Linked DNA regions of Homo sapiens: region 1 is linked to region 2. A link means that fine-mapping ties the variant in region 2 to the expression of a gene that starts in the linked region. Tissue or cell type: stomach. Region 2 holds a variant in brackets; the other region holds the start of a gene. All regions are shown on one strand. Distances are from middle to middle.

Region 1 (5,912 bases), 26 kb before region 2:
GTGCCAAACCTGCTGGGCCTCGTGGAGGAAAAGCTGCTGAAACTGCAGGCGCAGCTCCAGGGCCACGACGTGCAGGAGATGCTGTGCCACATCGCTAACCGCGAGGTGCCCTGCAGCCATGGGGCAGAGCTCCAGAGATCTAGGAGTAGGGCTGGGTCGGAAAACCAGGGAACCGGGGGCAACTTCGGGAGACCAGATTGCAGGCTGATCAGCCAGGAAGGGGTCTCGGGGACAACGGGCGAGGTTTGACGAGCCAGGGGTGAGCCCGAGCCACGAGGGAAGAAACCAGAAGAGGTGCAGGCGGGTCCTGTGAGGCTAGAGGACGCGGCTGGGGTATCCGGATGGGGAGAGGCCTAGTGGCAGGGCCCCAGAGACCAGGGGCGGACCTGAGTGATGAGGGGGTGAAGCTGGGTATCAAGGTGCCTGCTTAAGGAGGGATGGGAGTGGGCAGTGGTCTCCAGTTGGAACTAGGGCATATCTCGGAATGGGGTAGGGAGGAGGGGGAACGTGACTTCTCGGTGGCCCCTGGCCCCGCCCACCTTCCTCTCTCGCTTCCCATCCCCGCTTAGTTCCTCGCCAGCTTAGAGGGAAGGCTGCCCGAATACAACACCCGCATCGCCCTGCCCCTTGCCACTTCCAAGGACAAGTTTTTTGGTCAGTATGGGTGGGGGGATGAAGGGGTGCGGTTGGGGCCCCAAGCTGGGTAGCAGGAGGTTGTCAGATACCCTGTTCAGGGCCAAGGTGGGGGTGGAGTGGGGTGGTAAAGGGAAGGGGAGCCAGGGATGGGGACCTGGATCCCACATCGCTCCCTGCTCATCCCCCCACCCCCCTTAGACGAAGAGAGTGAGGAGGAGGACAACGAGGTAGTGACCCGCGCATCACTCAAGATCCGTTCCCAGAAATTAATCGAAAGTCACAAGAAGCACCGTCGCTCTCGGAGGTCCTAGACTCGTCCTGACACCCACCAGGCGGCCCCCTTCGGAGCCCCCGATCCCTCCGGGTCTAGCGCAGGCCCCACGGGGCCCCTTCAGGGGCTGAACGCGGCCCGGACCGGGAACGGAGGCGGCCAGCGGCGCCCGGAGGGGAGGAAGGGGCCGGGCCAGACGTTCCCACAGTAAATCTCCCCAGCTGGGTCCGCCCCGGCCTCAGAGTTGCGCAATAAATGTTACCGACCATGCCCCTGGGTATTCATCTGTTTTTGACCCTGCACCACCCAAGAGACGGCTGTCCCTGAAAACCCAGGGCCACAGACTGCCTCCTCCAACCTGGGTCATGATGACTCCCATCAGCTAGTGACGCAGATGGAGCTTAAAAATGGGAGATGGCCCGATGTAGTGGTTTTATGCCTGTAATCCCAGTATTTTGGGAGGCTGAGTTGGGAGGATCACTTGAGTCCAGGAGCTCCAGGCTGCAGTGAGCTATGATCGTGCTACTGCACTCCAGCCTGGGCCACAGAGCCAGACCCTGTCTCAATAAATAAAATAAGGGCGGGGTGCAGTGGCTCATTCATACCTATATTCCCAGCACTTTGGGAGGCTGAGCTGGGTGTGTCGCTTGAGCCCAGGGGTTCCAGACTAGCCTGGGCAACATGGTGAAAACCAGTTTTTACCAAAAAAAAAAAAAAAAAAAAAAAAAAAAAAAAAAAAGCTGAGCATGGTGGCATATGCCTGTAGTCCCAGCTACTTGGGAGACTGAGGCAGGAGAATGGATTGAACCCAGGAGGCGGAGATTGCAGTGAGCCAAGATCAAGCCACTGCACTGCAGCCTTGGCAACAGGAGTGAGACCCTGTCTCTAAAAAATAATAAGGCTGGGCGCCGTGGTTCATGCCTGTAATCCCAGCATTTTGGGAGGCTGAGGTGGGCGAATCTCTTGAGGCCAGGAGTTTGAGACCAGCCTGGCAAGTATGGCAAAACCCCGCCTCTACAAAAAATACAAAAATTAGCTGAGCATGGTGGCGGCACCTGTAATCCTAGCTACTTGGGAGGCTGAGGCACAAGAATCCTTTGAATCTGGGAGGCGGAGGTTGCAGTGAGTTAAGATCAAGCCACTGTACTCCAGCATGGGTGACAGAACGAGACTCCATCTCAAAATAATAGCAATAATAATAAAAAGTGGAAGATGCCCCCACACTTGATCAAGCTAGCCCCTTCCACTGGAGGACAGAGGACTCTGGTCTGGGGACACACACATGCCCCCACACAGGAGCTCCCCCACATCTGGGGATACAAAAAAGACCCCTTGGGGACAGATATGTCCTTTCTTCTGGGGACAGATTGATAGGCACCCAGCGGAAGAGCCAGGACCTCTCCTGGGCTGGCGCTGGGTCCGGCTGGAGGCACCCAGAGGCTGGGTCCGGCCTGCCCTGCCCCGCCCCGCCCCAGCAGCTCGGCCGCTCCGCCCCTCTGGCCTCAGCGCCCGGCCACTGCCCGCCGCCCGCCACCCGCCACCCGCCGGCCCTTCCGCCTCACTCAGCGGCGCCACTGAGAGGGACGGGCGCCGGCCATGGAGCGCACAGCAGGCAAAGAGCTGGCCCTGGTAAGGGGACAAGGGATCCCCGGACCCCGCATCCCTGGTGACCCGCAGGTCCAGAAACTCCAAGCGCCCGCCCGTCGGACGGTATCTGCTCCCAATCTGAACTTGCCCTGGAGTCCCCTCCTGGGGACTCGCGGCCCTTGACCCAGTGAAGCGACTGGTTCCTCTTAGGGATGGGGGCGCGAGTCTCTGAGCGCAGTCGGCAGAAAGAGCTAGAGACAGGTTCTATTAGACTGGGCCCTGGGACATCCCCAAATGCCACCCCATGTCCTCAGGACCTGGGAGGAGGGGACCCGCAGCGAGGAGGGGACTAGCCTGGGACCCCAGCCCTAGTCTCGCAGCTTCTGGCCGGGAAGGGGCGTGGGGATGCAGCAGGAGGACTCGGCCCGAGTCCGAGCGGCCAAGGAGGCTGAGGCCCCAGGACCTGTGCCCCTTTGGTGCCCTGAGTCCGCCTGTGCGTCCAGGCACCGCTGCAGGACTGGGGTGAAGAGACCGAGGACGGCGCGGTGTACAGTGTCTCCCTGCGGCGGCAGCGCAGTCAGCGCAGGAGCCCGGCGGAGGGCCCCGGGGGCAGCCAGGTGAGGAGGGGGTTTGGTGGGTGGCGCGGGGCCGGAAGCGACCAGTTGAGGGCGGAGCTGGAGAGCCGAGCACAGGCCGCCAGGTGCAGTGGGCGGAAGGAAGGGAGGGGCTCGGAGGCGACCAGATGAGGCGACCAGGTAGAAAGGGGACTGGGGGCGGCCAGGTAAGTGGGGGGAGATCCAGGGAATGGGGTGGGGCCAGGCGATGGCCGCGCAGTTCCCGAGAGGAGCCTAGGGACAACTTGGTAAGGACAGAACTGGACGGCAGAGTTGGGAAAGGCAGGTTTAGAGGGCCGGGGCTGGAAGGTGGAATGGGGTTGGTTTAGAAGTGGCTAGGTGAGGGCGGATGGGGCAGCCAGTGAAGCGCGACAGGAGGGCTGAGGGAAGCCCTGGGTGGAAAAGAGTGTGTGGGGCGGGGGCGGGGGGGTGGGGGGAGGGGACGGGAGGGGGAGGGGACGGGAGAGGGAGTAGGGGACAGGGCATGGGAGAGGGAGGGTTTCCAGGGCAAGTTGCAGGAGCTATTTGTGGATGGGGAGGAACAATAACTTCAAGCGGGCAGGGAGTGGGGCACACACCTATAATCCCTGCGCTTCGAGAGACCAAGGCAGAAGGCCAGGAATTGGAGACCAGCCTGGACAACACAGCAAGATTCTCTCTAATAAAAATAAAAATTAAAAAACTAGCTGTGCGTGATGATGCCCAGCAGTGGTCCCAGCTACTCAGGAGGCTGGGGCAGAGGGACCGCTTGAGTCTAGGACTTGGAGGCTGCAGTGAGCTATGATTGTGCCACTGCACCCCAGCCTGGGCAACAAAACAAGACCTGTTTCTAAAAAAAACAAACCAAAACAATAACTCCAAGAAGCCGGGAGACAGAGGAATCACATGAAAGAATGGTGCTACAGGCGGGGCGAGGTGGCTCACGCCTGTAATCCCAGCACTTTGGGAGGCCGAGGCAAGTGGATCATCAGGTCAGGAGTTCAAGACCAACCTGGCCAAGACGGTGAAACACCGTCTCTACTAAAAATACGAAAAAACTAGCTGGGCTTGGTGGCGGGTGCCTGTAATCCCAGATACTTGGGAGGCTGAGGCAGAGAATTGCTTGAACCCAGGAGGCGGAGGTTGCAGTGAGCCAAGATCACGCCACTGAACTCCAGCCTAGGTGACAGAGTGAGATTCTGTCTCAAAAAAAAAAAAAAAAAAGTGGTGCTAGGGGCTGGGCACGGTGGTTCACGCCTGTAATCCTAGCCCTTTGGGAGACTTTGGGAGGCCAAGGGGGGCAGATTACTTGAGGTCAGGAGTTCGAGACCAGTCTGACCAACATGGTGAAACCCTATCTCTACAAAAATACAAAAATTAGCTGGGCTTGGTGGTGTGCGCCTGTAGTTTCAGCTACTTGGAGGCTGAGGAAGGAGGATTGCTTGAACCCAGGAGGCAGAAGTTGAAGTGACCCAAGATCGTGCCACTGCACTCCAGCCTGGGCAACAGAGTGAGACTCTGTCTCAAAAAAAAAAACAAAAAAAAAAAGAGTGGTGCTAGTGATGAATGTGACTAGAGAAGGGGTGCTGTGAGGACCACTCCTGCTCTCTCATGGCCACCTCTCCCCTCCTGCAGGCTCCCAGCCCCATTGCCAATACCTTCCTCCACTATCGAACCAGCAAGGTGAGGGTGCTGAGGGCAGCGCGCCTGGAGCGGCTGGTGGGAGAGTTGGTGTTTGGAGACCGTGAGCAGGACCCCAGCTTCATGCCCGCCTTCCTGGCCACCTACCGGACCTTTGTACCCACTGCCTGCCTGCTGGGCTTTCTGCTGCCACCAATGCCACCGCCCCCACCTCCCGGGTCAGTAGCGAACCATAACCTCCGTATTCTCCACCCTAGAACCCCAACTGGGCACCCCCCTCCACCTCCTCAGGTGTGGAACCTGGAAACACCTCCCAGACCCAGAGCCCTCTTCCTAAGCCCCCTCTAGGTTCCCCCTTCTTCACCTGCTGGGGGGCCTCTTCCCAGGGTAGAGATCAAGAAGACAGCGGTACAAGATCTGAGCTTCAACAAGAACCTGAGGTGGGTCCTTCATCCAGATAGGGGAGTGCGGGGAGGGAAATCCAAGAGGTCAAAGGTTAGCAGTCGGACTGGGGTTTTGAAAATTGCAGGTTGGGTAATAAGAGACTGGGAGTCAGGTGGGGCGTGGTGGCTCATGCCTGTAATCCCAACACTTTGGGAGGCCGAGGCAGGTGGATCACTGGAGGTCAGGAGTTAGAGACCATCCTGGCCAATATGGCGAAACCCTGTCTCTACTAAAAATACAACAACAACAAAAAAAGGTAGCTGGGTGTGGTGGCGCATGCCTGTAGTCCCAGCTACTCGGGAGGCTGAGGTTGCAGTGAGTCAAGATCAGGCCATTGCACTGCAGCCTTGGTGACACAGTAAGACTCTATCTCAAAAAAAAAAAAAAAAAAAAGGTACCAGGAGTCATATTCTATGTCCCCCACTCTGGACCCAGCTCTGAGACCCTGCCTCTCTGGCCAGGGCTGTGGTGTCAGTGCTGGGCTCCTGGCTGCAGGACCACCCTCAGGATTTCCGAGACCACCCTGCCCATTCGGACCTGGGCAGTGTCCGAACCTTTCTGGGCTGGGCGGCCCCAGGGAGTGCTGAGGCTCAAAAAGCAGAGAAGCTTCTGGAAGATTTTTTGGAGGAGGCTGAGCGAGAGCAGGAAGAGGAGCCGCCTCAGGTGTGGACAGGTGAGGGGTTTTCAGATCCAGTCGTGTTCTGAGAAGGCCTTTCCTGTCTGCTTCTTCCCACACAGGC
Region 2 (7,798 bases):
CAGCCTGGGCAGCAGAGCGAGACTCTGTTTAAAAAAAAAAAAAAAAAAAAAGACTGTCCACGGACAAGTGACAGAAGGGAGTGTTTCTGACCTTCAATTTGTAGGATGGGCTGGGCATGGTGGCTCACAACTGTAATCCCAGCACTTTGGGAGGTCAAGGTGGGTGGATTGTCTGAGCTCAGGAGTTTGAGACCAGCCTGGGCAACATGAGGAGACCCCATCTATACAAAAAATAGAGAAATTGGCTGGGTGCGGTGGCTCAACGCCTGTAATCCCGGCACTTTGGGAGGCCAAAGCGGGTGGATCACTTGAGGTCAGGAGTTCGAGACCAGCCTGGCCAACATGGTGAAGCCCCGTCTCTACTAAAAATACAAAAAAATTAGCTGGGCATGGTGGCACATGCCTGTAGTCTCAGCTACTCGGGAGGCTGAGGCAGAAGAATCGCTTGAACCCAGGAGGCGGAGGTTGCAGTGAGCCGAGATCGCACCACTGCACTCCAGCCTGGCGACTGAGCAAGACTCTGTCTCAAAAAAAAAAAAAAAAAAAAAAAAAAAATATATATATATATATATATATAGAGAGAGAGAGAGAGAGAGAGAGAGAGAGAGAGAGATTAGCTGAGCATGGTGGCATGTGCCTGTATTCCCAACTCCAACTACTGGGGAGGCTGAGGTGGGAGGATCACTTGAGCCTAGGAGGTGGAGGCTGCAGCGAGCTGAGATCACGCCACTGCACTCCAGCCTGGGTGACAGAGCAAGACCCTGTCTCAATTAAAAAAAAAAAAGGGGGCCGGGCATGGTGGCTCACGCCTGTAATCCCAGCACTTTGGGAGGCCGAGGCGGGTGGATCACGAAGTCAAGAGATCGAGACCATCCTGGCCAACATGGTGAAGCCTCGTCTCTACTAAAAATACAAAAAATTAGCCAGGCATGGTGGCAGGCGCCTATAGTCCCAGCTACTCAGGAGGCTGAGGCAGAAGAATCACTTGAACCCAGGAGGTGAAGGTTGCAGTGAGCCAAGATTGCGCCACTGCACTCCAGCCTGGCGACAGAGTGAGACTCCGTCTCAAAAAAAAAGAAAAAATAGATTGTCTAGGGTCGAGTGAGAGAAGGGAGTGTAGAAGTTTGTCTGATCTTAAGTTTGTAGCATCATGAGATTGTTCAGGCTCAACCTGATGGGATGGGAGACTAAAGGGCATCTGGGCTTAGATTTGTGAGAACTAAGTTTGTTCACCACTGGGACCCTGAAGTTATCTGAACTTGGGACGGGAGAGAGGCAAATGGATAGCCGCGGAAGCATGAGATTGTCCTGTCTGACAGGGAGAAGCAAGGGATTGAGCGTATTCACGCTGAAGTACATGGCATGAGGTTGGCTGGATATTAGGAAAGGATGCTTGTGGTTGTTCAGGTGTTGAGTGTGAGGCCACAAGCTCGTGCAGGCTGGAAGTGGGAAGTTATTCAAGTTCATGGTGACAGCAGCATGGGATTGGCTGGGAGTGGTTGTGGGGGAGGGGTAGGGTGAGCAGGAAGTTGTTTGGCGGGGGGTGGTCTAGGGTGGTCTAAGTTTGCCCAAACTTTTACTGCAGGTTGTCGGTTTTGTTTGTTTTTGTTTTTTTTTTTTTGAGATGGAGTCTCGTGCTGTTGCCCAGGCTGGAGTGCAATGGCAGGATCTCGGCTCACCGCAACATCCACCTCCTGGGTTCAAGAGATTCTCCTGCCTCAGCCTTCCGAGTAGCTGGGATTACAGGCATGTGCCACCATGCCTAGCTCATTTTTTTGGTATTTTTAGTAGAGACGGGGTTTCACCATGTTGGCCAGACTGGTCTCGAATTCCTGACCTCAAGTGATCCACCCACTTCGGCCTCCCAAAGCGCTGGGATTACAGGCACGAGGCATCGCGCCCGGCCAGTTTGCTCAAACTTTTACTGCAGGTTGCCTTGTCTCTATGGTGAGGGGGAGAATATTAGGAGGTTGCCCAGGCTTATGATAAGGGAAGGCATGAGGTGGTGCAAGTTTTCAAGTGAGAAGTCGTCCAGGTTCCCAGTGACAGCAGAATGAGCTTGGCTTGGCAGTAGCTGCAGAGGGACCCATGGCTGTTCAGGTTCGCGGGTGAGTGGCAGGAGGCTCCCGGGTCCTCTGTGGGGGTGACACAAGGTTGTGAGGGCCTATTACCACCATCTCCACTCCTGACCAGTGCTCCTGATTCCTGACAATGCCAACGTCTTCTATGCCATGAGTCCAGTCGCCCCCAGAGACTTCATGCTGCGGCGGAAAGAGGGGACCCGGAACACTCTGTCTGTCTCCCCAAGCTGAGGCAGCCCTGTCCTCTCCACAAGACACAAGTCCCACAGGCAAGCTTGCGACTCTTCTCCTGGAAAGCTGCCATCCCCCAGTAGAGGCCACTGTGCTGTGTATCCCAGGACCACCACCCAACTGTAGCCCATTGGACCCCATCTCTTTTTCTGACTCTGTTGGTACTAGATCCATATTCCAAAGACATCAGCCCATGGGTGGCTGGTGGAGAGCTCAATCCCATAAATGTAGAAAGAGGTGGGGCATGGATACGTCAAATCCCTCCCCAGAGAAATCTTATAAATGTTAGAGACGCATCAGAAGTGACAGATGCGGATGAAAATAGTGACCAGAGTTATGAAACAGGTGTCAGTCTTGTTTATTTTGCGCCTGTGTGCCATGTTCACCCTTTATCAAGATAAAGGAAAACAGCTACCACACACACACCCACACACACACACACAAACACACAGAGAGAGAGAAACCTAAGAGCCAAGACCAGCCCGGGCAACATAACGAGATCCTGTCTCTACAAAAAATACAAAAATTTGGCTGGGCGTGGTGACTCACGCCTGTAATCCCAGCGTTTTGGGAGGCCAAGGCAGGCAGATCGCCTGAGGTCAGGAGTTCGAGACCAGCCTGGCCGACATGGCAAAACCCCATCTTCTAAAAGTACAAAAAATTAGCCGGGCGTGGTGTCATGCACCTGTAATCCCAGCTACTGGGGAGGCTGAGGCAGGAGAATTGCTTGAACCCGGAAGGTGGAGGTTGCAGTGAGTGGAAATCACACCACTGTACTCCAGCCTGGGTGACAGAGCAAGACCCTATCTCAAAAACAAACAAACAAACAAATGAACAAACAAAAAATTTTCTGAGTGTGGTGATATGAGACTGTAATCCTACCTACTTGGGAGGCTGAGCTGGGAGAATCACCAGAGCCCTGGGAGGTTGAAGCTGCAGTGAGCAGTGACTGGGCCCCTGCACTCCAACCTGGAGGACAGAGGGAGATCCTGTCTCAAAAACAAAAAAACTAAGAGCCCTAAGAAAGGTGTTGAGTCGGGTATGACACTCAACCCAGATGCCAGAGAGGATCCTGTCTGGCCGGACACAGTGGCTCAGGAGGGTAATCCCAGTACTTTGGGAGGCTGAGGTAAGAGGATTGCTTAAGTTCAGGAGTCCGAGAGCAGCCTGGGCAATACAGTGAGATCACATCTCACTAAATAAATAAATAAAGGATCCTATCACACAAAGAGGGTTTAGGACTTCCTTCCCCAACATTTTTGGGGTGATATGCCTCTTTTCTACTGTATATATGGGAGAGTGACTAACTGAAATTCCATCAGAATTAGAAACAAATAGCATCATTACCCATGAGTCAATAAGGGCTGTGAGGATGGGCCCTTTCACTTGCCCTCACCTTCTTCCTCTTCCTGTCACAGATAACCCATCTGTGCAAAGAAGAGAAAAAGAGGTTGGGTGTGGTGGCTCACATCTGTAATCCCAGCACTTTGGGAGGCTAAGGTGGAAGGATTTTGAGCCCAGGAGTTTGAGACCAGCCTGGGCAACATAGTGAGACCCCATTTCTACAAAAAAATACAAAGATTGGCCAGGCGCGGTGGCTCACGCCTGTAATCCCAGCACTTGGGAGGCTGAGGCAGGCGGATCATGAGGTCAGGAGATCGAGACCATCCTGGCTAGGTGAAACCCCGTCTCTACTAAAAATGCAAAAAAATTAGCCGGGCGTGGTGGCGGGCGCCTGTAGTCCCAGCTACTCGGGAGGCTGAGGCAGGAGAATGGCGTGAACCCAGGAGGCGGAGCTTGCAGCGAGCCGAGATCGCACCACTGCACTCCAGTCTGGGCGACAGAGGGAGACTCCATCTCAAAAAATAAAATAAAATTTAGCCAGGTTTGGTGTCCTGCACCTGTAGTCTCAGCTACTCTGGAGGCTGAAGCACGAGGATCACTTGAGCCCAAGAGGTGGAGGTTGCAGTGAGCCGAGATTACTGCACTCCAGCCTGGGTGACAGAGCGAGATCCTGTTTCAAAAAGCAAAAAAAAGGGCCAGGCGCAGTGCTCACACCTGTAATCCCATCATTTTGGGAGGCTGAGGTGGGCGGATCACTTGAGGTCAGGAGTTCAAGGTCAGCCTGGCCAACATGGTAAAACCCTGTCCCTACTAAAAAATATAAAAATTAGCTGGGCATGGTGGTGGGTGCCTGTAATCCCAGTTACTCAGGAGGCTGAGGCAGGAGAATTGCTTGAATCCAGAAGGTGGAGGTTGCAGTGAACCGAGATCATGCCATTGCACTCCAGCCTGCGTGACAAAGTGAGACTGTATCTCAAAAAAAAAAAAAAAAATGCTGGGCACAGTGGCTCTAGCACTTTGGGGGGGCAAGACGGGTGGATTGCTTGAGGCCAGGATTCCAAAACCAGCCTGGCCAACATGGTGAAAC[C/T]CCTTCTCTACTAAATATACAAAAAATTAGCCGGGCATGGTGGCAGGCTCTTGTAATCCCAGCTACTCGGTAGGCTGAGGCAGGATAATCACCTGAACCAGGCAGGCAGAGGTTGCAGTGAGTCGAGATCGCTCCACTGCACTCCGGCCTGGGCAACAAGAGCAAAATTCTGTCTGGAAAAAAAAAAAAAAGAAAAAGAAAAGGATTGTGAGGATGAAAAGAGAGGCGTGAGCTCTCTGTCAGCGTTGGAGTACAATAGAGAGGATGAAATGAGCTGTAGGGCGAACTGCTACATAGTCACAACCACAATAATATGCCCACTTATGAGCTCCTACTCAGCAGAGAACATCAGCTATGGTCTTTACATCTCATTGCACTAATCGAGTTCTTTCTGTTGCAAGCGACCAAAAACCCAATTCAAAGAGGCATGTGCAAAAAAGGACATTTGTGGCTTATGCAGTTGAAATGTCCAATGAGTAGGGCTTCAGGCACAGTTGCATCCAGGCACTCATAAGATGTCATCAGGGTTTTCTTGCTGTCTCTTTGCTCTGATTTGCTCTGAGAATGAGATAGTCCATTGTCCCCTCAAATTTAATCACCTTCTTCTATGGTAATGGAACCACTGATTTTTAGCTGGCCTCCCAAAGTAAAAGCCATATTTCCCACCTCCTCTGCAGCAAGGTGTGGTCATATCTGGCCACTGGCTAAGTCTTGGCCAATAAGATATAAAGGGAAAGGATGTGAACAAATTTCAGAACCTGCCCTTAAAGGGAAGCGGTGTGTCCTTCTTTTCCCCCTTTCCTCCCTCCTGCTGGTGGGAATGAAGACGTGGAGTGGATCATTTTGGATTAGGTGGTTCACACTGTCTGAATAGCTGAGCAACAAGCTAGAAGGAGCCTGGGCCTATGAGACCAGGGAGCTACCATATTGGACTGTTGATACTTGGAGTGTTACATAAAAGAGAAATAAATTTTTATCTTACTTAAGCCACTATTATTTGAGTTGCTGTTACAGTAGCCCAAATAATATTTTATTTAATATAGCTGTACTCATAGCTGGGTGTGGTGGCATGCACCTGTAATCCCAGCTACTTGGGAGGCTGAGGCGAGAGAATTGCTTGAACCTGGAAGGCGGAGGTTGCAGTGAGCCGAGATCGCTCCACTGCACTCCAGCCTGGGAGACAGAGCAAGACTCCGTCTCTACAAAAAAAAAAAAAAAAAAAAAAATACACACACATATATATATATATAGCTCTACTCCAAGGCAGGCTCATACCTTGTGGAGGCATAGGCTTATATCCCAACAGCTCCCCCATCCCATGCAAGCAGAGCCCCTCCTTCCCATCAGCTCCAGCAAAAAGTCCCAGAGCAGGCGCCCATTGGGCCAATTTGTGTCATGTGTCCACCTCTAAACCAATCACTGTGTTCAGGGGAATGAGATGTGCTGATTAGCCAGGCCTGGGTCCTGCGCCCACCCTTTGAGCTGGCACAGAAACTTTGAATCACAGGGGTGGAGCCTGGGAGAGTCCATAAGTGGACATTAAATGTGGGGGCTGTTATGAGGAGAAGGGGGAGTTCTGGTGAATGGGCAAAAAATAATCACTAGGTTTTCAAACATTATCCCTGGAGCAATAATGAGGAATGCCCAGGAATTATGTGGGTTGGGAGTAGAGATACAGAAATTTAAGTATCATATAAGGTCTGATGAAAGACCAATTACTAGCACACAACATGCTTTTTTTTTTTTTTTTTTTTGAGACAGAGTCTTGCTTTGTCGCCCAGGCTGGAGTGCAATGGCGAGAACTTGGCTTACTGCAACTTCCGCCTCCCCAGTTCAAGCGATTCTCCTGTCTCAGCCTCTTGAGTAGGTAGGATAACAGGCGTGTGTCACCACGCCTGGCTAATTTTTGTATTTTTAGTAGAGACGGGGTTTCACCATTTTGGTCAGGCTGGTCTCGAACTCCTGGCCTGATGATCCACCTGCCTTGGCCTCCCAAAATGCTGGGATTACAGGTGTGAGCCACTGTGCCTTGCCGCTCCTTTACAGGCTTTTTTTAAATTTTGGTCTTCTGTGAGTATTAAGACCTTAAGACCAGCCAGGCACAGTGGCTTATGCCTGTAATCCAGCACTTTGGGAGGCCGAGTCAGGTGGATCATGAGGTCAGGAGTTCGAGACCAGCCTGACCAACATGGTGAAACCCCATCCCTACTAAAAATACAAAAATTAGCCAGGCGTGGTGGTGCACGCCTGTAATCCCAGCTACTCAGGAGACTGAGGCAGGACAGAATCGCTTGAACCCGGGAGTCGGAGGTTGCAGTGAGCCGAGATTGCACCACTGTACGCCAGCCTGGGTGACAAAGAAAGACTTTGTCTCAAAAAAAAAAAAAAAAAGAAAAGAAAAGAAAAAGAAAAGAAAGACCTTAAGACAATTTGGATATTTTTTGCCCAAATGGGTATTTTTTTCCTCTGTCTCCCAAATCCCAAAGTGTTGGGATTACAGGCATGAGCCACCGCATCCAGCCTCTTAAGATCATTTGGATGTTAGTTCAGCATCCTTCTTGAACTAGTTTAAGCAAATTGCTATACTTACTGAATGCTTATTGTATGTCAAGATACTGTTTTAAGAACTTGACACAGGGGCCAGGCGCGGTGGCTCACGCCTGTAATCCCAACACTTTGGGAGGCCGAGGCGGGCGGATCACCTGAGGTCAGGAGTTCGAGACCAGCCTCAACATGGAGAAACCCGTCTCTACTAAAAATACAAAATTAGCGGAGTGTGGTGGTACATGCCTGTAATCCCAGCTATTCGGGAGGCTGAGGCAGGAGAATCACTTGAACCTGGGAGGCGGAGGTTGCAGTGAGCCGAGATTGTGCCATTGCACTCCAGCCTGGGTGACAAGAGCGAAACTCCATCTCAAAAAAAAAGAAAAAGAAAAAGAACTTGACACAATCTAATTTAATCCTTACCATAGCTCTATGGAGTAGACATTATTTTCACTTTATACATTTTATTTATTTATTTACTTATTTATTTATTTTTAGAGACAGTGTCTTG

Evidence for each region. PIP is the estimated chance that this variant, and not a neighbour inherited with it, causes the effect.
Region 1: it holds the start of RGL3, and the variant in region 2 is fine-mapped to the expression of RGL3 in stomach (GTEx, PIP 0.91).

What each region holds. Positions count from the first base shown.
Region 1 is chr19:11,415,870-11,421,781 of GRCh38, reverse strand. It overlaps RGL3 (ral guanine nucleotide dissociation stimulator like 3), which reads left to right and starts at 2,468. Exons shown (of 19, transcript NM_001035223.4): 1 at 2,468-2,536; 2 at 2,998-3,111; 3 at 4,723-4,946; 4 at 5,115-5,168; 5 at 5,634-5,845. The coding sequence starts at 2,504. It overlaps ODAD3 (outer dynein arm docking complex subunit 3), which reads left to right. Exons shown (of 13, transcript NM_145045.5): 11 at 1-105; 12 at 570-654; 13 at 835-1,177. The coding sequence ends at 947. RefSeq lists an enhancer at 359-408.
Region 2 is chr19:11,388,916-11,396,713 of GRCh38, reverse strand. RGL3 (ral guanine nucleotide dissociation stimulator like 3) reads left to right here. Exons shown (of 19, transcript NM_001035223.4): 19 at 2,194-2,654. The coding sequence ends at 2,312. Among named protein-coding and RNA genes, the nearest start is that of EPOR, 8.5 kb to the right of the region's middle. The variant C/T (reference allele first, on the strand shown) is at 4,744.